Linked DNA regions of Homo sapiens. The protein of the gene in region 1 purifies or fractionates together with the protein of each later gene. This does not show direct contact. Each region holds a gene or a part of one and is shown in the gene's direction. Other genes may lie near its edges. The genes, in order: DTNA, SEC23A, P4HA1, RIT2, SH3BP1, ANXA4 and MYO1E.

Region 1 (4,617 bases):
GATTTTATTAAGGTGAATTTTATTATTGACCACTATGTAATTTTTGACATGAAAAGAATTGGATTTTTTTTTTAGAAATCTAAGACTTTTCAAATGAAAAAGAAAGTAATGGTACCATGATCATGATGATAATGATAACGACAATAATGATTAATTTGGAGAATAAGATAGATTAGAAAGCTCTTGCCTCTTTGTGTAGTAAAAGGCCAATGCTCTTAGAAGGAAAGTGGAAATTACTAATGGGTAGTATGATTCTCAGAAATTAACCCTCAAATTTAATTAATTATGTTAATAGCATTTATAAGTCACTAGGAATAGAGGTGCTTGGTATGTTATTATCAGACTTTATTATAAAATATCTTGGTTTTGTTCAATAAGCGATAGAGGCTGTCATCAAAAATGATTAAACTTAGATATGCAGCGTTATTTCTGAGGGCTCTGTTCTGTTCCATTGATCTATATCTCTGTTTTGGTACCAGTACCATGCTGTTTTGGTTACTGTAGCCTTGTAGTATAGTTTGAAGTCAGGTAGTGTGATGCCTCCAGCTTTGTTCTTTTGGCTTAGGATTGACTTGGCGATGCGGGCTCTTTTTTGGTTCCATATGAACTTTAAAGTAGTTTTTTCCAATTCTGTGAAGAAAGGCATTGGTAGCTTGATGGGGATGGCATTGAATCTGTAAATTACCTTGGGCAGTATGGCCATTTCCACGATATTGATTCTTCCTACCCATGAGCATGGAATGTTTGTATCCTCTTTTATTTCCTTGAGCAGTGGTTTGTAGTTCTCCTTGAAGAGGTCCTTCACATCCCTTGTAAGTTGGATTCCTAGGTATTTTATTCTCTTTGAAGCAATTGTGAATGGGAGTTCACTCATGATTTGGCTCTCTGTCTGTTGTTGGTGTATAAGAATGCTGATCTTTGACAAACCTGAGAAAAACAAGCAATGGGGAAAGGATTCCCTATTTAATAAATGGTGCTGGGAAAACTGGCTAGCCATATGTAGAAAGCTGAAACTGGATCCCTTCCTTACACCTTATACAAAAATCAATTCAAGATGGATTAAAGACTTAAACGTTAGACCTAACACCATAAAAACCCTAGAAGAAAACCTAGGCATTGCCATTCAGGACATAGGCATGGGCAAGGACTTCATGTCTAAAACACCAAAAGCAATGGCAACAAAAGACAAAATTGACAAATGGGATCTAATTAAACTAAAGAGCTTCTCCACAGCAAAAGAAACTACCATCAGAGTGAACAGGCAACCTACAAAATGGGAGAAAATTTTCGCAACCTACTCATCTGACAAAGGGCTAATATCCAGAATCTACAATGAACTCAAACAAATTTACAAGAAAAAAAACAAACAACCCCATCAAAAAGTGGGCAAAGGACATGAACAGACACTTCTCAAAAGAAGACATTTATGCAGCCAAAAAACACATGAAAAAATGCTCACCATCACTGGCCATCAGAGAAATGCAAATCAAAACCACAATGAGATACCATCTCACACCAGTTAGAATGGCAATCATTAAAAAGTCAGGAAACAACAGGTGCTGGAGAGGATGTGGAGAAATAGGAACACTTTTACACTGTTGGTGGGACTGTAAACTAGTTCAACCATTGTGGAAGTCAGTGTGGCGATTCCTCAGGGATCTAGAACTAGAAATACCATTTGACCCAGCCACCCATAAATCATGCTGCTATAAAGACACATGCACACGTATGTTTATTGTGGCATTATTCACGATAGCAAAGACTTGGAACCAAGCCAAACGTCCAACAATGATAGACTGGATTAAGAAAATGTGGCACATACACACCATGGAATACTATGCAGCCATAAAAAATAATGAGTTCATGTCCTTTGTAGGGACATGGATGAAACTGGAAATCATCACTCTCAGTAAACTATCGCAAGAACAAAAAACCAAACACCGCATATTCTCACTCATAGGTGGGAATTGAACAATGAGATCACATGGACACAGGAAGGGGAATATCACACTCTGGGGACTGTTGTGGGATGGGGGGAGGGGGGAGGGATAGCATTGGGAGATATACCTAATGCTAGATGACGAGTTAGTGGGTGCAGCACACCAGCATGGCACATGTATACATATGTAACTAACCTGCACAATGTGCACATGTACCCTAAAACTTAAAGTATAATAATAAAAAATAGAAAAAAAAATGATTAAACTTATCAAGAATTGTACAATGTGTGGGTCAGTATCTGACAGGAAAAATGCAAACTCATTTCTAGGAAAGAACAATTAGTTATATTTTTAGTATATAAAGGGGCAATTAACTGGTCTTCACTTCATGGTATTATTAGCTGGATATTTTAGAGTGGTATTACTATAATAATTCCCCACTCTCAAACACACATGTTATGAAATGTTCACTAGACACCATTTCAATATTTTAATTGTTTTTAATTTTTTAATTATTTATTTTAAATAAACAATATTTTATATCTGAAACCTGTTAATTTTGATTTGTTTGGTGGAACATTTACTCAGAAAAATTACTTACCTCTACACATCCCTGACATGAAAGAAAATACTGGATGGATTGGCAATTCCAGTATAAAATATGGATCTATGAAAGTAGTGAAAGAAAATATAGAACTTATGATAGAAAAGGATGACCTCAAAGACAAAAATCATAAAGGAATGGTAATATGAAAACTTACTCCTTCTAGAATATGTTATATACAAAATTAAAAAGATAAATGGCAAATTAGAAACAACATTTGCAACATATATGAAAGAGAAAAAGTGAATATCCATGTTATGTAATGAGGTCTCATAAATCTGTAAGAAAAAGCACTTCCCTTTTAATTTTAAAAATATCTACAAATTAAACACATGTCATTTTAATAATTAGCAACTATTTTTTAAAGGGGAAAGCAAAAGGAGGAAGGGGGAGATAATGTCTGGTTTAGGAAAAGTCTGGAAAATGGGAACACATATACACTGCTATCATATAGCAGTGTACACTGGGTGCAGGTGGGGAGTTGATCAAGCTGGCAATGTGTAGCAAAGTCTTTAAAAATTGCATATCCTTGGGCCCTACAGTTCTACTACTAGGAATATGTCCTAACAAAATAAATAGTCTAACGTATTTACATAGTTTTTCGTTGTTTCAGACAATAGCAGTCTGAAAAAGAAAATCCAAGAAATATAGAAAACACATGAGCTCGTATTTCCTCTCTAGAAGCTATAAAGCTGTAAGAAGTCGGCCGGGCACCGTGGCTCACACCTGTTATCCCAACACTTTGGGAGGCCGAGGCGGGTGGATCGCCTGAGATCAGGAGTTGGAGACCAGCCTGGCCAACGTAGTGAAACCCCATCTGTCCTAAAAATACAAAAAATTAGCTGGGCGTGGTGGCAGGCGCCTGTAATCCCAGCTACTTGTGAGGCTGAGGCAAGAGAATCGCTTGAACCCAGGAGGCGGAGGTTGCAGTGAGCCGAGATCACACCATTGTACTCCGGCCTGGGCAACAAGAGTGAAACTCCATCTCAATTAAAAGAAAGAAAGAAAAAAAGCTGCAAGAAGTCATAGACATGGCTATATGCTGGTCTAACTGTTGACTTCCCAACTCTTTAGATGGAACATGTATAGGCAACATGGTGTAGAAAAAGAGTCTTGGCTTAAGAATTGGAATGCCTGAATCATGCTACTAACTAGCTGAGTTAATATAAATATGCAAATTTATGAAATTATTAAAATAATAATGTTAAAGAGTAGAAAAGTCTGTGAATCCCTTTACCCATGTATATGTGTTTGTCTTCACCGCTGATTTGCAAATAAGAAGTCTCATATCAAGTGGGAAGGGTAGATTTTTATAATTTCACTGAAATTCAATACCAAATGGTAAAATCTGGAATGCCTTGACTGTGAGAGAAAATAACAAAATATTTTAAATAGGGTATACATTCCAATTATTAGTTTTTGAAATTTATTCTAAAGAAATTTCTGCTCATATAAGGATGGGCAGAGGATAACTGGGCTTGAATAACTGGGCCACACCTACATTTAGGTGTGGTGGAGAGGCAGAGCTCCAGAGCAATCTGTTCAAAATTCTGTGATGCTGGAAATGCTCTATATCTTCTTAGTCCAATATAGTAACTACTAGCCACATGTGGCTATTAAACACTTGAAAGGTAGCTAGTGCGACTGATGAAACAGATTTCAAATCTTATTTAATGCTAAGTAATTGAAATAGCCACGTGTGTCTAGTGCTATCTTAATAGACAGTGACACTCTAGAATTAAGCACAACAAATAGGGTCTTTTATTTAATATCGGAGGTTAATTTCAAGCACCTCTGCTAAATTCGGATGATATAGATAGGACAAGAAGGTGAGTATTCTTTGTGCAATTTCCCTTTTATCTACAGAAATACAGATCAATGAAATCCTTTGATTCTAGTGACTGCAAGTCCAAGATTTTCCAGAGAAGTGTTGGTCTCAAGTAGTCTGTAGTTTTGTTTGCTTAAGAATTTTAATGCTCATTCATTTTCTCATTTATTTTTTTTAAAAAACCTTATATTGAATATATTTGTGTTGGACACTGACATTGAAAAGATAGTAGTAGTGCAGAGTTC
Region 2 (4,026 bases), on another chromosome or scaffold:
GGTCTAACTCCAGACTCTGAATTTTTAATCAAGTTAATTTGATGATTGCATTTAAAGGAAATAACAGTAACCAAGAATTTTACTAAAAATTAATGGACTCTAATAGCTTACAGGATTTTTTGGGGGTCAGAAATCAAGGACCCTATGATAAGTATTATCCATGAACGGCCGTAAGAGGGCACCACTGCAACACTTCTGTGACAGTGCTGGAGGCCTCTGTTGCTGTAGTGCCTCATATACTAAATAATGTAAAGCTTGTACCTTTCTGCCTAATCCTGGATATATTTTAAATAGAAAAAGGGTCCATTTGAAAAGTTGAGATCAGCTAACTGCTAATTTTTTATAAAATCGAATGAGCATTGGTATTTATCATTTCAAGCAGGAGCTCTGTGGTATATAAATTAGGAAATCCTTATATTTTGTCTTGACTAGGAGAAATGGCTCTGAGATTGGGTGACTTGAGATGGAAAACATTGTAAAATGAAAATAAAATCAGGCATAGTTACAGGAAGAAAAAAGTAAGAGCCATGAGGTTGTTACTGGTTTAGGTTACAGTTTTGAGACTTGTGCTTTTCTGTGTTAGCTATGCATATAGAATAAAGAAAAGTATTTCATTGTTATAGATTTTTGAACAGGAGGAACAATAGAAATAGCTAAAACATGTATGTCTACTGTGTGTACTAGGTACTGTTCTGTTTGCTTTATAGAATTTAACTCATTTAATCATTACAACAACTTGTGTAAGATAGGTCCTGTTATTATCCTTGTTTTACACATGGGGAAACTAAGACATAGTTTAAATAACTTATTCAGTCATATGGGTAGGAAGTGGCAGAGCCAGAATTTGAGCCTAGGCATTCTGGATCCAGACTCTATGCCCTTAATCCCAGTAAGGGATTGCCTCCCTTCATTATCAAATCTTTCAAGTTCTTTTGAATAAACATATGATAAAATTGATTTCCCTTTATTCAGGAGAGGTTATGGCATGTTTGTGGCTATGCCAGACTAGAATCACAGGAGCTATAAGTTCTCATCTCACATTTGCCAATAATTTGCTGAAATTACTTAATTTCCCTGTTTTAGACTTTGAATATTTATAATTAATAAGAACTTGAGTATAAGAAGAAAAATGTAAAATTCAGATTAAAAATCTTCTAGAAATACCTTCTCTTGCTGAAGTAAAATTTCATTGTTAATGGATTGGGTTACCAAGATCATTCTGTCAATACAGTTTTTATTAAAATGGATAATAGGAATTTTCCCTAACTCTTGTTAATTACTTGGAACCTACAGAAATCAATTAAAACGACCTGAAAACTTGAGAAGCATAGTTTATTTAAAAAATGATATTATGAGTTTGCTTCCTTCCAGCTGGGATTTCTCTTAAAATGCCAGGGAGAAAGGGTCTGGAGGTCAGGCTTTCTTTTAAAAGCACCAAGCCTCTAATTCCATTGTTAGTCTTCGTGGTGACTAGCCGCCATCCTGATTCATCTCATCTCATAGCATAAACTCCTATGTGATCCCATCAGCCTATGAATAAAGACACTCCTATTATCAGGGAATTCTAAGGATGTAGAGTCTCCCTCCCAGCAACCAGGGACGGAGGCCAGTTAGATTCTTTTTATTTAATAGGACCATAGGCATTTCAAATGATTTCCTTGTCTATTTTAAACATTTGTGTATAAATTCCATGATATCACCCTATGCTTTAATCATAACAAATATCTTTTTTCCTCTAGGAGTCTGGAGCACCTATTCTTACAGATGATGTTAGTTTACAAGTGTTTATGGATCACTTGAAGAAACTTGCTGTGTCCAGTGCTGCTTGAAGTGCTAATAATGTTAAAGACACTTAAGAAGATGAAATAATATTCAAATTTCATTTTTTCCTTTTTCCATTTATCTGTGGAAACCAACAGATATTGCTCTATATTTTTTGTATTAGTATGGTTTGAGACAACATATGGAAAATGTTCACATTTGTAGATTAAGCTGGAATTATAATGAGAGCAATAAGAACAAATTTATTTTGCTTACCACAGTGTTATAGCTGGTTCTAGAAATTTGAAGTCTTTATAACTTAATTATGTTTAATAAAAAATAGAGTCTGCCTCGTACTACAGATGTAACTCATTTGTATATTGCAGACAGACCCAAAGTGGCACTGAATTTTCTTGCTCACCTTTTAAAAACTTGTTCCTTAATTTTAGCCAGAAAGCAAAAAAACAATAGTAATGATAAATGTGAACATTTTTGCTTATTCATTGAATATTTTTCTGTAATTTTCAGCACTTATGTATACACTTTTTCTGTACTTACTAGGTTAAGGCAGATTTATTTTTATGATTTGTTTAGGAATTATTTGATTTTATAATGGTAATTTTCATGATGATAATGTTTTTGGTTATTTGGAAAGATAGTTTAGAGATGAAAGGTTTTTTTGGGTAACAATCCCGCAGCTGACAAAAAATGTGAAATTTCCACAAAATATCCAACTTATGTGACTAAACGCAGTAGTTTTTTTAAAAGGGGAGATAGAAAATAAATGGTTTTGTTGGAGTGCATTTTAGTAAGCCTTTGCAGTAAAATGACGGTTGTAACTACTAAACCAAATTTAGTTTTCACAGCATGGTTTTGTTGTTTTCCCCTTGTTTTTCAGAGGTAAATTTTGCATTATATCCTTCAGTATTTTAACACTATTTTGGCAGTTTACACATTACTTTTTGTTTTTCCTTCCTTTTTGTGAAATGTATTAAGTTGTGGTTCTTATTGAAACAGTATTATATAATGTTTGCTTAATTATATCATGTGATGCTCAGTTCTATTTTGATTTATTCATTAGTATTCACTTTTACCTTTAAAGTTTACTTGTAGCAAATATGTTTACATTGATAAAGCCAGATATGTTTTGACAATGAAATTTACATATCAAGTACTGCAAATAAAAGGTGGTGCTATGATATATGCTTAGGAGGACAGTTTTAATGATTGTACTTGCATGAACACAATCATATGATGGTAAAGCAGAAACTTAAGAAAAAATTGTTTATGTGTTATATTCAATTAGCTTAAATAAGTTGCTTTGTTATATTTTATTTGAATTGAACTACGCTAGGCCTAAATGCCAATAAAATATACTTTTCACTGTTTTTCTGGCTATTTTGAAATCTAGTAAAACCTGAGAAGCCTAATGTAAAATTAGAGTATTTAAAATCATTAGATTTAAAAGCTACTCATTTAAAAAATAACAACTTTAAGATATAATTCACACATCATACACTTCACCCACTTAAAGTGCACAATTTAATAGTTTTGAGTATTTTCGTGAAGTTATGTATGTAACCACATCACCACAATCAATTTTAGAGTATTTTTTATCACTCCCAATAGTTACTCATTTTTGTTGTAAGGCTAGTGTGTTTTTAAAAAGGGAGATAGAAGTTCATGTAGTTTTTTGTTGTTGTTGTTGTTTGAGACAGAGTCTTGTTCTGTTGCCCAGGCTGGAGTGCAGTGGCACAGTCTCAGCTCACTGCAACCTCCACCTTCTGGGTTCAAGCGATTCTCCTACCTCAGCCTCCCAAGTAGCTGGGATTATAGGCGCCTGCCACCACACCTGGCTAAGTTTTGTATTTTTAGTAGAGATAGGGTTTCACCGTATTGGCCAGGCTGGTCTTGAACTCCTGACCTCAAGTGATCCACCTGCCTTAGCCTCCCAAAGTGCTAGGATTACAGGTGTGAGCCACTGCACCCAGCCAAGTTCACGTATTTTGAATTGAGGAAAGACATTGTAATGATGACACCTGTTTAATTTGCTTGGCCTCTTAAGTTATGTTCTTTAAGTGCTTGGCCTCTTAAGTTATGTTCTTAAGTGTTGTGCCATTGTTTCTTGTCTTGGTACTTAGCCCTAAACTGTCCTCTACTTCTAAATCAGTTACAGCTGAATTTAGGGATAAGGATGAACAAATATACCCTTTTAGTTCACCATTTAAAAGCAATCACCTGGGATCATTTTTGTGTATAATGTGT
Region 3 (4,617 bases), on another chromosome or scaffold:
AGTCACTCAAAGACACCTACACATTTGTTTCCTTTTAGTGTATACGCCTCTTCCCTGCACACACTTTTCCTTTGCTTTTACAAAATTAGGTTAATATTGGATATCGTAACATTTATTGTGAGCAGTTTCTGAAGGACAAGAAATATTTTACAATCTAAGCCTAGGTATCCTAAACACTTAGTTACTGTCACAAGTGAAGTCTCTATATATTCTTCTGCCTTTTTATTTTTATGTGTGTGTGGTTCTTTAGTTTTTTTTTTTTTTCCTCTCAGATGGGTAGCGTAGTCATCTTTTCTTCTACTAAAAGGTAGTTCAAAATTATGACTAGCAATTCTGAGGCAGTTAGTGGATTCCAGCTTATTCGAAAATTATATCTTTAGTTTCCCTTTTCCTTCTTACTTAGAAATTTGGGACTGAACTTCACTCAGCCCTTAGAAGTAGGCTACATTTATAATGTATCTGTGGTAAAGGTTGCTTTTGAATTGCTTATCCCCTGTCTTCCTCATGTGATTGTTTTTCTGTCTTGGAAAAATCTTTTTCATTTCTTAAAATAAGTAGGATGAGTAAGATTTTAAACTTCATTTGACATCAAATTGAACTTAGTTCCTTTAGCTGATTAGTAAATTCTCAAAGTAAAAGCACCAGTTGCCACCTTTAAATAAATAGCTGTTTCTGTCTCCAGAACTGTCTTTTTTGAGACAGGGTTTCACTCCTTTTGCCCAGGCTGGAGTGCAATGGCATGATCTCGGCTCACTGCAACCCCCGCCTCCCGGGTTCAAGTGATTCTCCTGCCTCAGCCTCCTGAGTAGCTGGGATTGCAAGCACCCACCACCACGCCCAGCTAATTTTGTATTTTTAGTAGAGACGAGGTTTCACTATGTTGGTCAGGCTGGTCTCGAACTCCTGACCTGAGGTGATCCACCCACCTCAGTCTCCCAAAATGCTGGGATTACAGGTGTGAGCCACCAGGCCTGGCCCAGAACTGTTTTTATATAGGTGACTATATGTCCTGATTTACTTGGGGGCAGTAGTAACTTATACCTATTATTTTGGTATAATAATTTTTATTAGTGCCTCCTTTCACTCACAACAGCAACCTGGTTTGGAAGATAAATTATAATGTCTCCTATTTTTATATTACTATATTCTGATGCTTGAACAAGCATGAACTTACCCATGGACATGCTTTGTTTCTCTTCTAATAGATCCTGAACATCAGAGAGCTAATGGTAACTTAAAATATTTTGAGTATATAATGGCTAAAGAAAAAGATGTCAATAAGTCTGCTTCAGATGACCAATCTGATCAGAAAACTACACCAAAGAAAAAAGGGGTTGCTGTGGATTACCTGCCAGAGAGACAGAAGTACGAAATGCTGTGCCGTGGGGAGGGTATCAAAATGGTAAAGTGGAAAAGCCAATTGTGTGTATGTGAATGTGTGTGTGTATGTGTTTGTACACAGTTCTGGAGAGAATCAGTTATTTTATATTTAAGCCTATGTGATAAAAATCAGAATGACTGCATAAAATATTACAGTATGTCAGCTTAGGCAACATAGACCCCATTACAAAAAAATTTAAAAATTAGCTGGGCATGCTGGTGTACACTTGTAGTCTTAGCTACTCAGGAGTCTGAGGTGGGAGGATCACTTGAACCAGGAGTTCAGGGGCACAGTGAGTTATGATTACACCACTGCACTCCAGCCTGGGCTACAGAATAAGACCCTGTCTCTAAAAAACTTTTTTTTTTTTTTTTGAGATGGAGTCTCACCCTGCCACCCAGGCTAGAGTGCAGTGGCATGATCTCGGCTCACTGCAAATTCCGCCTCTTGGGTTCAAGCGATTCACCTGCCTCAGCCTCCTGAGTAGCTGGGATTACAGGTGCCCGCCACCATACCCGGCTAATTTTTGTATTTTTAGTAGAGATGGGGTTTCACCATGTTGGCCAGGCTGGTCTCAAACTCCTGACCTTGTGATCCACCTGCCTTGGTCTCCCAAAGTGGTGGGATTACAGGCGTGAGCTGCTGTGCCCAGCCTAAAAAACTTTAAAAAAAAAATTACAGTATACCATTCTCTCTCTGTGGGTGCCACATTTAATATGTTCCAATTATTAGTAAAATAGCTTTAAAATAAAGCTTGTGAATCATATACTATTACATATGTTTGGGGCAATATTACCTTTTTCATTTGATCCTTCCAGGGTGAAGGATCAAATAAGTTTAAAGGAAGTGATAGTTTTTTTTATATTTAATGCAAGAGAGATTTCAGCAGTATTTTTTTTTTTTTTTTTGAGACAGAAACCCACCCTATCACCCAGGCTGGAATGCGGTAGCGCAGTCTCGGCTCACTGCAACCTCCGCCTCCTGGGTTCAAGCAATTCTTGTGCTTCAGCCTCCCAAGTAGCTGGGACTACAGGCATTCGCCACCATGCCCGGCTAACTTTTTTGTATTTTTAGTAAAGACGGGGTTTCCTTATGTTGGCCAGGCTGGTCTCAAACTCCTGACCTCAGGTGATCCTCCCGCCTCGGCCTCCTAAAGTGCTGGGATTACAGGCGTCAGCCACCACACTCATCTGTTCAGCAGCCTTAATTAGAGACAATAACACTACTCTGTGCATCTTATGAGATACAACAGATTCATCTATACAATAATCCCTTGTAGTTTTGCTCCTAGTTAATCTTCACAAGATTGCTTAGTGAAATGCTTTAGTCTGTTTAATACTGAAAATGCAGAAAGTTTTCAACAGATTTTGTCTTTAATATTTCTTTAAAATATATCTATAAATATTACTTTGTTTATTGTATATGTATTTATAACTCAGAATTCCAGTTCTATAGATGTTAATAGATACTAGGCCAAAAGCAAAAAGAACAAAGTCTGGGGAACATTTGTTAAACAAAGTTGAACATAGGTTTTTGTTTAGCCTCAAAACTTCTCAGAACCTTTTTATGATAATGTGCATTGTGATATGATATACATTCTTTCTCAATATTAATTGATTATGGAACCTTTTGAAAAGGAATTTCATGTGGTATTAGTTTTCAGTTGAACACAGGCTTGCATAGAAGGAGTTAGTGAATTTTTGGAGTAAGTACTTTTAGGTGTAAACATTTGAAAAGTGTTTAACATTTTCTTTACTACTGGTAAACTCAAGCTGGGCTTTGCATTTCGATATTGATGACTGTTGACAGCTTAACCACTAACAGCAAAGTATACAATACGTATGGTGACACTTTCAATAGATAGGTTCATGGAGTCCTAGGAGGACATGCTTGAGCTAATGAGTAAATACAAAGATGGTGACACTGTTAGACTCATTATTTTCTTTTTTTTTTCTCTGAGACGGAGTCTCGCTCTGTTGCTCAGGCTAGAGTGCAGTGGCGCCATTTCGGCCCCTGGGTTCACGCCATTCTCCTGCCTCAGCCTCCTGAGTAGCTGGGACTACGGGCGCCTGCCACCACGCCCAGCTAATTTTTTGTATTTTTAGTAGAGATGGGGTTTCACCTTGTTAGCCAGGATGGTCTTGATCTCCTGACCTCGTGATCCGCCTGCCTCGGCCTCCCAAAGTGCTGGGATTACAGGCGTGAGCCACTGCACCTGTTCCCTCATTAAACATTTTCTTTTCTGTTTCATTACTAAATATTTTAGTATGTATCTTTTAAAGATACAAATTCAAAATAACTACAATACCATTATCACCTAAAAATTCACAAGTTTTGTAATATCAAATATCTAGTGTTCAAATTTCCGCAGTAAGCAGAAATTTTTATTGCTCTTAATAACTCTTAAGGAACAAAATAAAACTGTAGATATAAAACAAAGAGTCTGCTAATTTCCCGGTTTGTTAATGTAACACATACTCAACTTTGCCTAAGATCAAAAGAACATTCTTGCCAGGCACGATGGCTCATGCCTGTAATCTCAGCACTTTGGGAGGCCAAGGTGGGTGGATCACCTGAGGTCAGGAGTTCAAGACCAGCCTGGCCAACATGGTGAAACCCCATCTCTACTAAAAATACAAAAAGTTAGCCGAGCATGGTGGCAGGGGCCTGTAATCTCAGCTACTTGGGAGGCTGAGGCAGGAGAATTGCTTGAACCCAGGAGGCAGAGGCTGCAGTGAGCCGAGATCAAGGCATTGCAGTGCAGCCTGGGTAACAGAGCAAGACTTTGTCTAAACAAAAACAAAAACAAAAAATTCTTTTTCTCAGAATAGCTACATTCATCTCATCATTATATAAAAGACTTACTAAAAATTAAAGCCTTGGATTTGACTCTAGGTAAAGTGCATGGAGAATAAACATGAATCATTATTTGTTTTAGTATACTATTAGTATAATAATTGAAACAGACTACTCATATTCCTGCTTATGTGACATACTTGTTTTTGTTTTGTTTTGTTTTTTTGAGACAGCTTCTTGCTCTGTCACCCAGGCTGGAGTGTAGTGGCATGATCATGGCTCACTGCAACCTCTACCTCCTGGGCTTAAGCAGTCCTCCCATTTCAGCCCCTCAAGTATGTGGGACTACAGGCAAGTGCCCTCATGTCCGGCTAATTTTTTAAATTTTTTGTAGAGACGAGATTTCGCTGTGTGACCTAGGCTGATCTTGGTCTCCTTGG
Region 4 (4,617 bases), 8.4 Mb from region 1:
AATGAGCTAAAAATATACATGGTTTATTTTATCTCATTTGAGCCTAGGCTGGGGTGCAGTGGCATGATCATGGCTCTAAAATATACGTTTTAAAACCTACTTTTCATATCAAAGACTTAGATCAACAGAGGTATATGAAGGGATTGTATAACCCCATTACCCTGGGTTGTGTGAAGAGATTTCCAGAAGAGATCTGCTCTTCTGAAGAAACTAAAGAAGATGCATCAAGCTACCATCTGTTTCCAATTCTGAGAGTCAAGTCCAAGTCAGCCTTAAACATGAATTAAAAACTAAATTTATGGTGACTATAATTTTTAAAATCTTGGAGATTTTTTATGTATATTAATATTTATTCTTTTTTATTTTTCTTTTTGTAGAGATGGGCTCTCACTATGTTGCCCAGGTTGGTCTCAAACTTCTGGCCTCAAGCAATGCTCCTGCCTCAGCCCCCCAAAGTGCTGGGATTATAGGCATGAGCCATTGTGCCTGGCCTGAGAAATGTTTTTGTCCATGTTTTACCAAAATATTTTTTAATAGAAACTTTTAAAAGAATTTGCAACTTTACTGAAATAGGAATTCCCACAAGATTTAAAATATGTCAGTTAATGAATGTACTTTATGTGAGGAATTTTAAACCACAAGTAATCAATAAAGTTTACTGAGCACGTATTATGCACAGTCCTATACTAGTTACTATGAAGGACGTAAACATTTATGAAGCCCCCATTGCATGGCAGGCATGGGCTACATGTATTTCACGCTTATACTCAGTCCTAACCACAGTCAGAGTCGGTATTTCTATTTCACAGATGAAAAAACAGAGGTCAGAAAAATAACTTGTGCCTGGTCATGGGGGTAATAATTTAGAGTTCTGTGATGTTTTATCTAACTCTACTACATTATGTTTAATGCTCTGAGAAGAACAAAGAGTTGCATCACTCACTAGTAAGAAGAAAACAGATCCATTGATAATGCATTTCCTAGGTCTCGAATGTTATATTTAGAAGAGATCTTAACCATCTAGGCTATCACTTTGATTTATACATCTATGCCGCTTTAATCTTTAACCTAATTGAACACTATGCATAATACTTCTGTATAAATATATAATATTAATATTTGTATTTATATTTTTATAATTATATGTAATATTGTCCAAGAATGTTACTAACTGCAGAGAAAACAGGGATACACAAGAATTATTTGGACAATGGCCAAACTGAGGCATTGAGAGGTGAAGAGACCTGCAAAGGTCATTTATACAGCAGTGGCAGAGTCAGATCCAGAATCCAGTCCTTCTGACACCATTGAAGCTGCTTTTCCATCACTCCCCAATTTTTACACAGAGTAAGCTGAATCAAAACTGCACCATACAAAGTAACAGATATGTATACAAAGTAGCAGACATTTAGGAGGAACAAGTATAGAGATCTAATGTATAGGATGAGGACTAGAGGTAATAATATTTTATTTGGGGTTTATGCTAAATTAGTAGATTTTTTTATGTTTATTTGTACATAGTAGGTGTATATATTTTATACATGTATATATTTATGGAGTACATGAGATATTTGGATACAGGCATACAGTGTATAATAATCACATCAGGGTATGGTGTATCCATCACCTCAAACATTCATCATTTATTTGTGTTATAAATCTTCCATTATACTTTTTTGTTATTTTAAAATGTACAATAACTTATTTGTGATGATAATGACCCTGTTGTGCTATCAAATGTTAGATCTTATTCATTCCATCTAACCACAATTTTGTACCCATTAACCATCTCCACTCCCTCTTCCTACTACCCTTTCCAGCCTCTGGTAGCCATCATTCTACTATCTCCATGAATTAAATTGTTTTAATTTTTAACTTCCACAAATGAATGAGACCATGCAAAGTTTGTCTTTCTGTGTCTGGCTTATTTCACTTGACACAATGATCTCCATTTCCATGCATGCTGTTGCAAATGACTGGATCTCATTCTTTTATATAGCTGAATAGTATTCCATTGTGTATATATACCACATTTATTTTATTCATTCTTCTGTTGATGGACACTTAAGTTACTTCCAAATCTTGGCTATTGTTGCTAGTGCTGCATAAATTAGTAGATTTTAGCTGCTGATACTGCCACCCCCTATAAAAAGTAGCTATGTGAAATGATGGATATGCTAATTTGTTTTCCTATAGTAAATATTTTACTATCTATGTGTATCCCACAACATCATATTGTATACCTTAAATATACACAATAAAGTTTATTTTAAAAATAAGACTCATGACGAGAAAACTACTTAAGAAACAACACACATATATATACACACATACACATTCAGTGAAATAACATTAAATGACAGTAGAATAGAAACTTATATTACAAACTGTGATTACAACTAAAACCAAAAGAAAACAACAAAAAAGACAAATTATCCAATAAAGTTCAGTATGTTAGGCATCTTTTAGGCATCTTCTTTTAGCCTTCTATCTCATTTTGTTCCACTGCCCGCCACTCACCCACCCTAAAAAATAAAAATAAAAATAATCTCATGGTTACAGTTTTAAAGTTTTATGGAGCCTAAACAATCCTTATAACAGTTTCAAATATTGACCTTTGTCACTGTGGTTTGAAACAGCAAGGCCGTTCCTCAATGCCAGAGCATGATGAAATATTGTCTTCCTTGGCTTCACATCTGGTTCTCCAAGTTCAGAATCAAATTTATTCAACAGATTTTATTTAATAAAAATAATATCTTATTTTCCAGGTATTTTGGAAAATATCTGCATTTGGGATTTATTCTAAGTTAGTAGGTTTTTATTTTACTGATTTTTTTTATTTTTATGGGTACATAGTGGGTATATATATATATGGAGTTAAGGAAATATTCGTATACAGGCATACACTTAACATAATGATAATGTTTTAAGATTTAAATAATTTAAGATTCATAATGATCATATTTTGCAAAATAAGATATTATCGCATAAAATTGGGGTAAAAATAACATTTTACTTATTCTGATTATGATCTTATTTGATCACAAAGTAAGAAGGCAAGTAGGAGAGGTATCTAAGCACAGAACTATCAAGAGATTTGTCTAGTAGGAAAGTCAGAAAATAAGGACTGGACATGAACACAGGCTTTCTACATCTAAATTGTTTTTCTATCAAATTGTATGGGAAAAGCAGAAAAAGGTTCCCAATGTCAGATGAGAACTTTATGTCCTTCTCTGGTCCCTAGGACACATCTTGGAATTATTTGGTGAAATGTTGTCAACATACATCTTCAAATGTGAAATATGTATGAAACACTATGCAAGTCATTGAGCAGGGAGGGAGTGTTATTCACAACTATGATTTCAGGTGATTCCTGACCTCTGGGAGTGCACCATCTCATGGTGGAAAATTTGCTGTAATGTGTAATACAAAACAATAAGTTTATATTAGGCTTCTGATGTAAGAGCTTTGGAAACTCAGTATAAGGGGTGGCTATAAGAGATGTGAAAGTTGAGAAGAAATCACAGCATAGATGGTATTTAAATTATGTCTTAAAGGATGAGGAGGATTTTTTTGATGCTGAAGAAGAAAAGTATGGGGAGATCCAAGGGAAAGAATTGAACATAAACAGTGTATACAGGGGCACAAAGGGATCTGAAGGCTTATAATTTTTAATGGCAGCATCTTGATAATTTAGTGTCTCTAAGTGGTAGTTGAAAAAATATCTTTTGAGATTTGCTCAATAGATGCTTCAGTTAACTGTGAAAAAGTTACACAACACAAATAAACTGAAAACCCAAAAAGGATTAGGGAACTCAGAATTTATTAGAATGTTTCCATTGTGAATTCTTTGTAAAGAAAAAACTGATTTCTAAAATAAACAAACATATTCTCTCCCACGGCCATGTGCAGTTTGTTGCCTCTGCAAATTCAGTTTCATGTAGCAGGATTTTATAAAGAGAAAGCAGTAACAATATCTCTGAGGTAAACGGAAAGCAGCACACAACCAATTCCTTCCACCTCAGTGAATTAGGAAAGCAGGTAGGAAGTTGAGCCTTTATCTGATGAATTAAATCAAGGCAAGCAACCAAGTGCATCATTCATGTCCCACAGCCTCTGTATTTTACTTCATTAGCAGAACTTTGAGTCTGACAAAGCTCAACAATTGTCACATCGTGGCCATGCGTTATCCTAACCCTGTGGACTGTAAGGCAAAAGAAACAAAATAAACAAGGGGAAAGCAAAAAGATTTTAAGATTCCAGGGCCTTCTGTTCTCACCCTTAATTGTTACCACCTCAGTTGTACTGCAGACCATCACTCACTGCAATACTGTCAGGAAGCATTAGCCAAGAGGTCTAAATAAGGCTCAGTAAAAGAGTAAATTGGTATCTACTCACTCAAATAATGATTGAAAACAGAATTCAGGCGAAAGGCTTTGATTGACAACATCTCCAAGATTATATGCACTCTGTAGATTTTAAATTGATGAAAGAGAGTTTCTACAGCTCTACATGAGTACTATATGATATGTCTGCCCCATCTATGACTGGAGATGAACGAGCATGTAATAATCCCTCAATGAGCCCACATGTTGCTGAGCTCTTTACGTTCACGCA
Region 5 (4,617 bases), on another chromosome or scaffold:
CCCACCTGCAAGAGCTGGGCCGGGAGATTGCCCTGCCCATCGAGGCCTGCGTCATGATGCTGCTTTCTGAGGGCATGAAGGAAGAGGTGGGGTCCCCTGGGGCAGGTGGGGAAGGAGCACTGGGGCCCTCATTCTGTCCCAAACCGCCCACTTGCTGCCCTTTCCGGGTGCCTGTAATTCCCTCATTCGAGCCCAGCTCCCTGGGAGAAGACATGACTGCCTCCTGCGGCATCCACACTACCTCCCCCGTGTCAATGCTCGCGTGGGCCAAGCGCTGTACTAGAAGCCTTTGCATTCCAGGCTCCATTTCACAATTTCACAAGAGGGAGACAGAGGTAGAGAGGTAACCATGCCCAGAGTCATTTGAGAAGGTGACTTCTCAAACCAGGGGCTCCACTGCCACACACTGGCTGGATCTGCTGTGAATACATTGCCCCCCTGTCCTGAAGATAGACCCTAGTGGTGGCAGATACCCCAAAACAGTTCTGCGCTGCTCAGCAATCCTGCTGTGCTGGGGCCTCCTTTCTCCCTTACACTTTTTTTTTTTTTTTTTTTTTTGAGATATGGAGTGTTGCTCTGTTACCCAGGCTGGAGTGCAGTGGCGTGATCTCGGCTCACTGCAGCCTCTGTCTCCTGGGTTCAAGCGATTCTCCTGCCTCAACTTCACAAGTAGCTGGGACTACAGGCATGCACCACCACGCCCAGCTAATTTTTGTATTTTTTAGTAGAGATGAGATTATGTTGGCCAGGCTAGTCCTGAACTCCTAACCTCAGGTGATCCACCTGCCTCAGCCTCCCAAAGTGCTGGGGTTGCAGGCATGAGCCACTGCGCCCGACCCTTTTTTTTTTTTTGAGACAGGATCTCGCTCTGTCACCCAGGCTGTAGTGCAGTGGTGCGATCCTGGCTCACTGCAACCTTCACCTCCCTGGTTCAAGCGATTGTGTCTCAGCCTCCCAAGTAGCTGGGATTACAGATGCCCACCACCATGCCCAGCTAATTTTTTTTATTTTAGTAGAAATGGGATTTCACCATGTTGGCCAGGCTGGTCTCAAACCCCTGGCTTCAAGTGATCCACCTGCACAGGCCTCCCAAAGTGCTGGGATTACAGGCGTGAGCCACTGCACCCGGCCCCTCCCTTCCACTTCTGACTGGGCTTCCATTTCCCCATGATTTTTCCCGCCTCCTCCCAGACTTCCCAGCCCTGCCCTTTGCTCAGAATTCTAGACCTTGAAGGTTGAAGCCCGTGGACACCGTGGTGCCCACACTGCCAGCCAGACCAGCGGGGACACAGGCCTAGCAAAGGCCAGTGGCACACCCCAGGCTACAAGTGCGCCAGGGTGTCCTGCCCTGCCCACCCCTCTGTGACCCTTGCCTGCCTCCTCTCGAACCCAGGGTCTCTTCCGTCTGGCTGCTGGGGCCTCGGTGCTGAAGCGTCTCAAGCAGACAATGGCCTCGGACCCCCACAGCCTGGAGGAGTTCTGCTCCGACCCGCACGCTGTGGCAGGTGCCTGATCCGGGGAGCCCTGGGCAGGAGGTTGGGGGGGAGGGGGTGCAGTGGCTTGAAACGATCCCAAGATAGCCTGGCTTTAAGACTTGATATTCTGTTGAGACTGAGGACACTCGGGTTCTTAATGTGGGGTCCATCATGAGCCCCCCGAAAATGTTTGGCATTTTTCTGGGGACAAGATGGCTAGCCTTCATTTTCTCAAAAGGGCCTACAGCCCAAAGAAACTGTCAGACCTAGACACGTTAGTGTGAACAAGGGCCGGAGGTTCCTTCTACAGGGAGAGTGGGAGAGCGGGTGGGGGCTGCCTCTGACCCTCCCCACACCCCTCCTTCAGGTGCCCTCAAGTCCTATCTGCGGGAGCTGCCAGAGCCTCTGATGACCTTCGACCTCTATGATGACTGGATGAGGGCAGCCAGGTGAGGATGTTGGAGGAGGGAGGGGATGGGGAGGAGGAGGATGCAAAGGTGTAGCCCTGCGCTGGCTGACAGGTCTCTCCACTCCCCCCCAGCCTGAAGGAGCCAGGGGCCCGGCTGCAGGCCCTCCAAGAGGTGTGCAGCCGCCTACCCCCCGAGAACCTCAGCAACCTCAGGTGAGCCCGAGCCCGCCTCCCCAGCCTGCCGCAGAGCCAGAGCCCAGCTGAGGTCACGGACCCTGGGACCCTGGGCTTGAGCCTGGCCTTGCCACTGTATCCTAAGAAATATTACTGAAAATGCAGCTTTGATGGATTAGTCATTTATATATATAATTTTTTTTTTTTTTCTGAGACAGGGTCTCACTCTGTCGCCCAAGCTGGAGTGCAGTGGTGCAGTCTTGGCTCACTGCAACCTCCGCCTCCTGGGTTCAAGCAGTTCTCCTGCCTCAGCCTCCCGAGTAGCTAGGACTACAGGCGCCTGCCATCACACTCGGCTAATTTTTGTATTTTTAGTAAAGGTGGGGTTTTACCATGTTGGTCAGGCTGGTCTTGAACTCCTGACCTCAGGTGATCCACCCGCCTCAGCCTCCCAAAGTGCTGGGATTACAGGCGTGAGGCACTGCGCCCAGCCGGATTAGTCACACATTTTTATGCGAAGCATTGAAATAAATGAGACCTTGAACTTTTGAAGCCATACCGCCTGGCTTCACATGCCACCTCTGGGCAGGCCACTCAGCGTCATCATCTGGAAAATGCAGACTGTAACAATCTCTACCCTGTAGGGTGGCTGCTGAGGACTCAGCTTGGCTCAGTGCCCACTGCAGGGTTGGCACTCAGTGGATAAGCTGATTTAACTGTGACAATGTTAAGACCATTCTGGGCGGTGTCTTTCACACTCTTTGGAAACCCTGGGCTGGAGAATTCTCAGGGCTGGGTGCGTTCTGCCCCTGGCCTAAGCCTGCCTCCGCCCTTAGGTACCTGATGAAGTTCCTGGCACGGCTGGCCGAGGAGCAGGAGGTGAACAAGATGACACCCAGCAACATCGCCATAGTCCTGGGACCCAACTTGCTGTGGCCACCTGAGAAAGAAGGGTGAGGGGCCGCGGGCTGGGGGAGGTGGCAGGAGGAAGGCAGATCCCATCCCAACTATCTGTTGTCTATTTTTCCCCGGGGCCTTGGTGTCCCCATTTTTGGAGTGGGTTGAGCAGCTCCTGTTTTTGAGGCTGCCGTGAGGAACAGGCCAAAGGGGCTGTGCAGGCCACAGGGCTTTGGAGAGAGGCAATTCTGGCATTTTGGCCAGTGGTGGTGATGAGGTGTTTAGTGGCATGGGGGAGCTGGGAGCCCAGAGATCGGGTTCTTTTTTTTTTTTTTTTTTTTGAGATGGAGTCTTGCTCTTGTTGCCCAGGCTGGAGTACAGTGGCGCAATCTCGGCTCACTGCAACCTCCGCCTCCCGGGTTCAAGCGATTCTTCTGCCTCAGCCTGCCAGGTAGCTGGGACTACAGGTGCGCACCACCACTCCCGGCTAATTTTTTGTATTTTTAGTAGAGACAGGGTTTCACCGTGTTAGCCAGGGTGGTCTCGATCTCCTCAGCTCGTGATCCACCAGCCTCGGCCTCCCAAAGTGCTGGGATTACAGGTGTGAGCCATCGCGCCCCAGGTGTGAGCTGCCGCGCCTGGCTCGATCAGGTTCTACTAATAGCTCCACCCCTCCACCTTCCAGAGATGGGCCTGAGGAAGACACCCTCAGAACCTCGATTTCCTCATCTGTAAATTGGGGAGAAATCATACAAACTTTGAGGGCTTTTGCTTTGGGGAGTGAGTGATATGATGAATTGGAAAATGTTTTAGAAACTGTGAAGTGCAAGCCAGGTCCAGTGTCATGCCTGTAATCCTAGCACTTTGGGAGGCCAAGGTGGGAAGATCACTTGAACTCAGGAGTTTGAAACCAGCCTGGGCAACTTAATGAGACCCTGTCTCTACAAAAAATTAAAAAGATTAGCCAGGCATGGTGCACACCTGAAGTCTCAGCTACTCAGAAGGCTGAGATGGGAGGACTGCTTGGGCCCAGGGAGTCAAGGCTGCAGTGAGCCATGATGGAGCCACTGCATTCCAGCCTGTGTGACACAATGAGACCCTGTCTCTAAAAATGAAGAAATAGGCCGGGGGCAGCGGCTCACAGCTGTAATCCCAGCACTTTGGGAGGCCGAGGTGGGTGGATCACCTGAGGTCGGGAGTTCGAGACCAGCCTGGCCAACATGGTGAAACTCCGTCTCTACTAAAAATACAAAAATTATCTGGGCGTGGTGGTACGCGCCTGTAATCCCAGCTACTCGGGAGGCTGAGGCAGGAGAATCTCTTGAACCTGGGAGGTGGAGGATGCGGTGAGCCAAGATCGGGCCACTGCACCCCAGCCTGGGTGAGAGAGCAAGACTCTGTCTCAAAAAAAAAGAAGAAATAATAAAATTAAAGTGTAAAGTGCAGTGCTATGTGAGGAGTCATCATTATTTACCTGGCCACAGATGGCAAGATTTCCTCCCACGTGCTGATTGCATTTGCTTGGTAGAGGCTGTCCAGATCACAACTATGAGGAAAAGGGTCCTTGATTAATTAGTGATGTCTGTCAGGGTGAAGGAAGGGGGACATTTGGCATGTGAGTGACACATTTACCATCAACTGGTGGTTTGTGGGCTTTTTGAG
Region 6 (3,856 bases), on another chromosome or scaffold:
CAGCGTTCGATCTGTGAACTAAATATTCTGAATCCTACTCAAAGCTTGGAGAGGTGTGACAATTAGGTGATTTTAACTGCAGATTTTTTTTTTTAGATGGAGTCTCACTCTGTCGCCCAGGCTGGAGTGTAGTGGCGCAATCTCCACTCACTGCAACCTCCACCTCCTAGGTTCAAGTGATCCTCCTGCCTCAGCCTCCTGAGTAGCTGGGACTACAGGCATGAGCTTTGTATTTTTTGTAGAAATGGCGTTTCACCATGTTGGCCAGGCTAGTCTTGAACTCCTGACCTCAAGTGATCCACCCGTCTCGGCCTCCCAAAGTGCTGGGATTACAGGTGTGAGCCACCATGCCCCACCAAGCTGTGGATTTTGTTACTACGTCTACAAGGCATGCAGGAACTTGTTTCTATTTCTGACTAGGCTATGAGGTAACTTGATTTTGCAGAGCTGAACTATATAACTAGTTTAAGATTCAAGGATGACGGTAAGTGAAGTTATGGGAAAATATACTACAAACAAGAAAAAAACAAAATAACCCCAGGAAATGACAAATGATTTATGGAGGATATGGAGAGACTAGAACTCTTGTGCACTGTTGGTAGGAATATAAAGCGGTGCAGCCACTGTGAAAAACAGTCTGTTACGAAACTTTAAGCACCAAACTTCTTCAAAAAGTTTAATATAGACCAGGCATCGTGGCTCATGCCTGTAATCCCAGCACTTTGGGAGGCCGAGACAGGTGGATCACTTGAGCCCGGGAGTTCGAGACCAGCCTAGCCAACATAGTGAGACCCTGTCTCTACAAAATCAACAAAAATTAGCCGGGTGTGGTGGTGCACGCCTGTAGTCCCAGCTACTCAGGAGGCTGAGGTGGGATGATCACCTGAGGCTGGGGAGGTCGAGGCTGCAGTGAGCCATGACTGTACCACTTCAAGACTCCAGCCTGAGTAAAGACCCATCCCAAAAAAGAAAAAGAAAAAATTTTAACATAGAATGACCATATGAGCCAGCAATTCCACTCTCAGTTATATACTTAAATGAAAACAGGAACCCAAACAGCTAGTTGTACATCAACATAAACATTATTAACAATAGGCACAAGGTGGAAACAACCTAAATATCCATCAACAGATGACTGGATAAACAAAATGTATATACATACATAAAAAGCAATGATATTCAATGGTACGCTGTCATGAAAAAAAGGAATGACATTTTTGATACGTGAATGAACCTTGAAAATATACTACGTGCAATAAATCAGACACAAACGGACAAATATTGTATGATTCTGCTTTATGAAATATGTAGAATAGGTAGATTCATAGGGACAGAAAGTAGATTAGAGGTTACCAGCAATTTGGAGGGAGAGGAAAGAATGGGAGTTATTGGTTAGTGGGTACAGAGTTTCTGTTTGGGGTGATGAAAGGGTTTTAGAAATAGACAGTGATGATGGTTACATAACATTGTAAAAGTAACTAGTGCCACTTGAAAATGGTTAAAATGACAAATTATATATATATATTTTTTTACCACAAGAAAAAGTCTCTGAATTTGAATAAAATTGTTTAATGAAATGTGAAAAGAATAGATGAAGTATAATACTTCATCATAGCATTATTTATATTATTTACATGGCTTTATGTTATTTATATTTATATCAATAATATGGTATTATAGTATATAATTTATTATATATTGTTATTACTATTAATCAATAGGGAATAACAAATTATGGAAAATCCATACAATATAATACTATACCAACACTAAAATGATTGAGTACAAATATATTGATTGGCTTGGGAAGAAAACACTATAATCTAGTGTATATATGTCTGTATATATAAATATGTAAATATATGTGTGTATACACACACACACCACTAGAAAAGATTAAAAATAAAGAATACATTACTCATTCAATAATAGTTGTCAAAAGAAATGAAAAAAGCAGAATAGAAGCATAAAATATGTAAATAATAGAAAAAAATGACAAAAGATAAAAATAAAAGTTATAAAAATAAATAAACTCTCAGGTTAGGTAAAAATATAAAATCCAACTTCATGCTGTTTATAAGAAACAACTAAAATACAGTGACATGTAAAAAGCTTAAAGAAAAACACCAGGGAAAGAAAGAAAGCGGACATACAAGAAAGAAAGCGGAGATTATGCTATTAATAAAAAGAAGAATTTAGGGAGAAAAAGTATTAAATAGGAGAAAGTGGATCACGTTATACTGACAAAGGCAACAATTCACAGCAAAGATTAAACTGTTATGAAACTTTCAGTACCAAATTATATTGCATTCAAATGTATAAATAAGAAACTTGAGGCTCCAGAAGAAAACATATAATGGAATTAGTATGCTAGCGAGAGACTTTAATACATCCTATGCTTTGGCACATCAATGAGGCAAAGTATAAACAAGGATATATTAAGATTGAGCTTAACAGATACTTATTAAACTTTGAACCCTATATACAGAGATTCCATCTTTTCTAGTCCCCACGAATGACTAATAAAAATTAATCTAGGCCAGGTGCAGTGGCTCACACCTGTAATCCCAGCATTCTGGGAAGCTGAGGTGGGAGGATCACTTGAGCCCAGGAGTTCGAAGCTGCAGTGAGCTATGACCACACCACTGTTCTCCAGCCTGGGTGATAGAGCAAGACCCTGTCTCTAAAAATATAATAAAAATAAATAAATAAAATTAAAGATTAAAAAATTAATCAATTATTAGACCACAAAAATTTATATGCAGAAATTATAGAACCTTTCCGGAAGACTGTTTTGTAACCCATATCAAAATGTTTAAGAAAACAGGCTGGGTGCGGTGGCTCACACCTGTAATCCTAGTACTTTGGGAGGCCAAGGTGAGTGGATCACTTGAGGTCAGGACTTCAAGACCAGCCTGGCCAACATGGTGAAACCCTGTCTCTACTAAAAAAATAAAAATTAGCCAGGCGTGGTGGTGTGTACCTGTAGTGCCAGCTACGCAGGCAGCTGAGGCAGGAGAATCACTTGAACCTGGGAGGCGGAGGTCGCAGTGAGCCAGGATTGCACCATTGCACTCTAGCCTGGGCCACAGAACGAGACTCCGTCTCAGAAAAAAAAAAAAAAAAAGGTTTAAGAAAATGCATTTAGTCCAGTAATTCCCATTTTATGAAAATTTATCCAGAATAAATCATTAAGAAAATATACAAAAATGTAACTACAATATGCTTATTGAAGCAGTGTTTATAATAGTGAAAAATTGAAACAACGTAAATATCCAACAATAGGGAGAGGGAGGATGTGATCAAATAAATTATTTTACCTGCATACAATGGGATATTCTGTAACCATTAAATAATGTTGTAGAATAATATTTAACAAAATAGGGCCCTAGCACGGTTGCTCACGCCTGTAATCCCAGCACTTTTTGGGAGGCCAAGGCTGGCAGATCATGAGATCAGGAGATCAAGACCATCCTGGCTAACATGGTGAAACCCCATTTCTACTAAAAATACAAAAACAAAATTAGCCGGGCATGGTGGCAGGCGCCTGTAGTCCCAGCTACTCAGGAGGCTGACGCAGAAGAATGGCGTGAACCCGGGAGGCAGAGCTTGCAGTGAGTCAAGATGGCGCCACTGCACTCCAGCCTGGGTGACAGAACAAGACTCTGTCTCAAAAAAAAAAAAAAAAAAAAAAAACCACAAACAAAAATGAACAAAATAGGGAAATAGGCTATATTGTTAAGTGAAAAAGCAGAACACAGAATACTACTGTTCTATCACATTGGGTATCTAGATACATAGAAAAAAGACTGGAAGGACATTCACACATCAAAACGGTAAGAATAGTAGTCTCTAG
Region 7 (4,617 bases), on another chromosome or scaffold:
TGGGCCCAATGCCTGAGTTGTGTTATCCTGAAGAAGTTTTCCAGATAATAAAATAGGAAAGAAGAATTAAACAAATTTTCCACTTGAATTAATTTTCAATCTAAATCTTATAAAAATGGACTTGACCAAATTTAACTCTTTATTTACCTTTTCCCCTGTCTTGGATTCCTTGGAGACCAGAAAAAAAAAACAATTAAATTGATATTTTCATTGATTTTTGCAATATAAATTATTCATTATATTTGGAGGATATATCAGTTTCTGTAAATAACAAAAACACTCAACATTTATTATTTTTCTAATTGCAAAATTTTATACAACCCTGATAGAAAGATTGGAAGAGACAATTCAGACACACATTCACCTGCACACACACACACACACACACACACACACAAACACACACTGTCTCTCTCTCTCTCACTATTCACCATCATGGATGAGAGAAATGTAAATGAAAACCACATATAATTTTCTGTCTCTCAAATGGGCAAACATTAAGTTGATTGATAATAATCGAGAAAACACGCTATTGGTTGAGAACTGACACATTCTTCCAGGAAAGTGATTGGGCAATTGTTATTAAAATTTTAATCGTTCATTATCTTTGCCCAACAATACTTTTAGAATAAATTACATAAGCTTCCTGCTTAAATAACTACTTATTTTAAAAGATATTCATAATATATTGTTAAATTAAAAAAACAGATTACAGAACAATATTTACAATATGTTCTTGTTTTTTTTTAATGTGCACATTATATGAAAGGTAACTAAGAGGTATGTAAATCAAAGTTTGACATCTATGACAGTAATTATTTAGCAAGAGAATGAAGAAGTGGCATCAGGGTAGAATTATGAGTAATTTCACTTTAAAAAATGCACAGGTATTATGAAGCATAAGAATGTATATATTTAACACTTACAAATCTTTTCAAGTTAAAGAATGTATTACGAAATACTTCAAACACGATTTAAAAACAATGCAATGAACATCTATGTATCTGGCACCCAGCTTAGGAAATAAATCATTACCAAGAGTCGAGGTGAAACTTCTTTTCATTTCATTATCAAAATGCAAATGCAACCTTTTATTCCCTTTATAAAATTTCCTGTCATCCCCCCCAGGCTGCTATACAGCAGTCCTAAATATGTTAACCTTTTGTTAGAAATTTTAACTTTTATATGACAATTATGAGCCATGCATATGCATTTTATTATGTTAGAGCAGTGGTTCTCAACCTTGACCACACATAAAAATCAGCTGGGTGCTTTTTGAAAACCACACAGCTCCGGGCCCTGGTCCTAGAGTCTGATGTGCGTGGCCTGGGCTGACAGCATGTTGGAAAGGCTCCCCAGGTGTTTCTAAGGGGCATCCAAGGTTGAGCACTGCTGCTAGGAGGACTTGGGAGCTTGCCTGTCCAACACCTGCCCTTCCTGGGTCAGATGTTCTGTTTGGTTTCATTTTCCCTCAACTGTTGAGGAATGGGGGACAGGCACTGAAGTATTCCCTCTATCACATGCCAAAAGGAAAGGGTGGTGAAGGTGGCCGCCAAAGGAAGCACGGGAGCTCTCTTTCAGTGAGCTTTTCTCAGGTGCCACTGACATTCCGCAGAGCGATGGCTGGTGGTTCTCTGTGCCTGGTGCTGCTGGGTGTTTTTGTTTTTTGCCTGGAGGAAAAGAATCATCAGATTAAGACACATAGACAGTTAGAGGCTGGCCGCCTTCGGTGGTCTTTCTTGACACCTAGAATAATTACGAACAGGAACACGGCATGTACTCACACATTTGCAGTGTGCACAGTACTTTTCTTGCCCTTAATGAGTTTACAGCTCCAGTCACAGACATAAAACCCAGCTGAATTCATCCCTGAGATGGGTGGATTTAGTCAGCATACACATTTTTATGTTATTAAATGTGAATGCGATGAGGCTGGGCATCTTCTCCAGTTTGACCATAGACCACACCACTCCCTCTTTTCCTTTATCCGTATTTACCCTTCTGGCCTCTGAGGGTGCTTAAGTTTCTAAGCACAGGAGACAAATTAAGTTCTAGTGAGAAAAAAAAACCAATTTAAATATACATATGAAATATATATAATAATTGTTATAATAATTATATATATAATTTTGATTCATTTTATTTTGGTTTTTGGACAGAGTCTCGCTCTCTGGCCCAGGCTGGAGTTCAGTGGCATGATCTCGGCTCACTGCATCCTCCACCTCCCAGGTTCAAGCGATTCTCCTGCCTCGCTGGGACTGCAGGCACCCGCCACCATGCCCAGCTAATTTTTTGTATTTTTAGCAGAGATGGGGTTTCACCATGTTGACCAGGCTGGTTGCGAACTCCTGACCTCCAGTGATCCACCTGCCTCAGCCTTCAAAGTGCTGGGATTACAGGCGTGAGCCACCGCGCCTGGCTATATATAATTAATATAACAACCTAGATACCTTTTCAACTACAGTCTAGGTTTTTATTCTCCTTTGTTCCCTATTAGCAGTCATTTAAAGAGGAATTTTCATAACAATGACAGTGACAAAAATCCCTAGGCCCGTCAGTAGCTAGAAAGAACTTTACTTTTAATAAAGTGTTTCCGTTCTAGATAAACATTTTAGATGCTCCGTAGGTAAGAGAGATTGAGTGTTTTTGCTCAAAGCCATGAGATGAAGCCTGACAGAGCAAGAGTGCTCTTCCTCTGAAAGGGTGCCATGCCATTTTTCTGCCTCATGATTTACACCTTCTGGTTGAGCAGACAGGCACCTACTGGGGGAAAATGAGCAAGGAATAGAGCATATCCTTATTTAGTCATGCTGGAATGATAGGTGCTCTCTCTAACAGAATCGTGTGGCTGGACAAAAGCACGGGTTATTGTCTGATTGAAAACTAAGGAAGTCTAGACTCAAATTAGGAGTAATTCAGAATGTGTATTTTATTAATGAATTTCCTTGAATTATATACTGTATTCAAAGCCTGTTTGGGACATCATGTTTTGTTCACCAACCATTGAAGGAAATCCCTAACTTTCTTGCAGGGAAAATACTTTGAAATCCAGTTCAGTCCAGGTGGGGAACCAGATGGTGGAAAGATCTCCAACTTCCTTCTGGAAAAATCTAGGGTGGTGATGAGGAACCCAGGAGAGCGGAGTTTTCACATATTTTACCAGGTTTTCCTGTTTACTTTTTTCCTACCCACTTCCTGTCCCTTCTCTACATTAAAATATTTCTCAGACTTCAGGCATAGACTATAGTCTAGGAAGCCAGGGAGGACTGATGATGATACCATGTACAAGTCAATGTGCAGAATTGTGAGAATGTCCTGCCCTCAAGGAGAGTGAGTTCTAATTGGAGTGATAAGACAGAAATTCCTCCAAAGCTAAATCATCAAGAAAGTATTGATGTAACTTCAAAACAAAACGAGGAGTGTTGGAGTCTTTGCCAAAGGAATTCAGGTGGGCAGGTTTGGCCGGATAGTAGGAGAGGTGTGAAGGAGGTAGAGCCCGGATGGAAAGTGGAGGGGATTGATGAGGGAAGACAGGTGACCTGCACCAAAGCAGTGGAGGTGGGAGAGGGAAAGCCAGTCAGGGAGCCCGGCCTCAGCCTGCCTGCAGGGCAGGCGTCTCCAGAACGTGAGCTACCGGAGGAAAGATTTGAGATAGGTTTGGGATCTTTAATGCCAAATTGAAAAGTTGCCACCTAGACCCTCAGAAGTCATGGAGAGTTTGGGGCCAGAGCAGCTTGCAGGGTGCTTTTTGATTATGTTACAGGCTTCAGCAGTCATCTGAGTCAGCTACTTTTATTTTATTTATTTTTTTATTTGAGACAGTGTCTTGCTCTCTTGCCCAGGCTGGAGTGCAGTGGCACAATCTTGGCTCACTGCAACCTCTGCATCCTGGGCTCAAATGATCCCCCTGCCTCACCCTCCCAAGTAGCTGGGACTATAGGCACATGCCACCACACCTGGCTAATTTTTGTATTTTTCGTAGAGGTGGGGTTTCACCATGTTACCCAGGTTGGTCTCTAACTCTCGGACTCAAGTGACCCACCCACCTCAGCCTCCCAAAGTGCTAGGATTACAGGCGTGAGCCATTGCACCTGGCCCTGATTCAGGTACTTTTGTAAAAGGTTTTTAAGTACTTAAAAAATATAATGATGTTAATAACCAAATTTTTTATGTTCTATTTACTTATTAGTATTTTATATTGAAGATCCACATTAGACTTTCTTCGAAGAAAGACCTGGTCACTGTTTTTTGTTTTGTTTTGTTTCATTTCGTGTTTAGTTTGTGGATCACTGGATTAGAAGGACATTAAACTGTGGAAGTAGCTCACATTCAATCTTTTCAATTACACACACATCTTAGGCAATGCCAAATAATTCTTTTAGTTTGTACCTGTTGGTTGAAAAAGTATATAAATGATTAAAACTTCTGTGAATTCAGTCATTTTTAAAATTGTATTAAAGCAACATATATAGATAAGTGAAAAATAATTATATATTTCACATAAATAATACCCAGTGCTAGATGGAAGTGTATAATGGATGTCAGGACTTCTTTAAATAAATGCAAGCCCCAACCCTCCCCCAGGAGTTCTCTGCCCTTAAGTCAGAAACCACCAGA

Evidence for each region.
Region 2: the proteins of DTNA (region 1) and SEC23A fractionate together in Homo sapiens (co-fractionation; one large-scale study listed by BioGRID). This does not show direct contact.
Region 3: the proteins of DTNA (region 1) and P4HA1 purify together in Homo sapiens (affinity purification with mass spectrometry; one large-scale study listed by BioGRID and IntAct). This does not show direct contact.
Region 4: the proteins of DTNA (region 1) and RIT2 purify together in Homo sapiens (affinity purification with mass spectrometry, with the first as the bait; one study listed by BioGRID). This does not show direct contact.
Region 5: the proteins of DTNA (region 1) and SH3BP1 purify together in Homo sapiens (co-immunoprecipitation; one large-scale study listed by IntAct). This does not show direct contact.
Region 6: the proteins of DTNA (region 1) and ANXA4 purify together in Homo sapiens (affinity purification with mass spectrometry, with the first as the bait; one study listed by BioGRID). This does not show direct contact.
Region 7: the proteins of DTNA (region 1) and MYO1E fractionate together in Homo sapiens (co-fractionation; one large-scale study listed by BioGRID). This does not show direct contact.

Annotation. Positions count from the first base shown.
Region 1 is NC_000018.10:34,713,032-34,717,648, forward strand, and holds part of DTNA (dystrobrevin alpha), read left to right. Parts: intron 1-4,617. UniProt on the Homo sapiens protein: May be involved in the formation and stability of synapses as well as being involved in the clustering of nicotinic acetylcholine receptors.
Region 2 is NC_000014.9:39,031,042-39,035,067, reverse strand, and holds the end of SEC23A (protein transport protein Sec23A), read left to right. Parts: intron 1-1,739; coding exon 1,740-1,829; 3' UTR 1,830-3,149; downstream 3,150-4,026.
Region 3 is NC_000010.11:73,047,838-73,052,454, reverse strand, and holds part of P4HA1 (prolyl 4-hydroxylase subunit alpha-1 isoform 2 precursor), read left to right. Parts: intron 1-1,205; coding exon 1,206-1,402; intron 1,403-4,617. UniProt on the Homo sapiens protein: Catalyzes the post-translational formation of 4-hydroxyproline in -Xaa-Pro-Gly- sequences in collagens and other proteins.
Region 4 is NC_000018.10:43,108,497-43,113,113, reverse strand, and holds part of RIT2 (GTP-binding protein Rit2), read left to right. Parts: intron 1-4,617.
Region 5 is NC_000022.11:37,645,425-37,650,041, forward strand, and holds part of SH3BP1 (SH3 domain-binding protein 1), read left to right. Parts: coding exon 1-86; intron 87-1,393; coding exon 1,394-1,505; intron 1,506-1,842; coding exon 1,843-1,924; intron 1,925-2,016; coding exon 2,017-2,097; intron 2,098-2,894; coding exon 2,895-3,011; intron 3,012-4,429; exon of another isoform or gene 4,430-4,501; intron 4,502-4,617. UniProt on the Homo sapiens protein: GTPase activating protein (GAP) which specifically converts GTP-bound Rho-type GTPases including RAC1 and CDC42 in their inactive GDP-bound form.
Region 6 is NC_000002.12:69,821,395-69,825,250, forward strand, and holds part of ANXA4 (annexin A4), read left to right. Parts: intron 1-3,856. UniProt on the Homo sapiens protein: Calcium/phospholipid-binding protein which promotes membrane fusion and is involved in exocytosis.
Region 7 is NC_000015.10:59,226,005-59,230,621, reverse strand, and holds part of MYO1E (unconventional myosin-Ie), read left to right. Parts: intron 1-3,031; coding exon 3,032-3,163; intron 3,164-4,617. UniProt on the Homo sapiens protein: Actin-based motor molecule with ATPase activity. Unconventional myosins serve in intracellular movements. Their highly divergent tails bind to membranous compartments, which are then moved relative to actin filaments.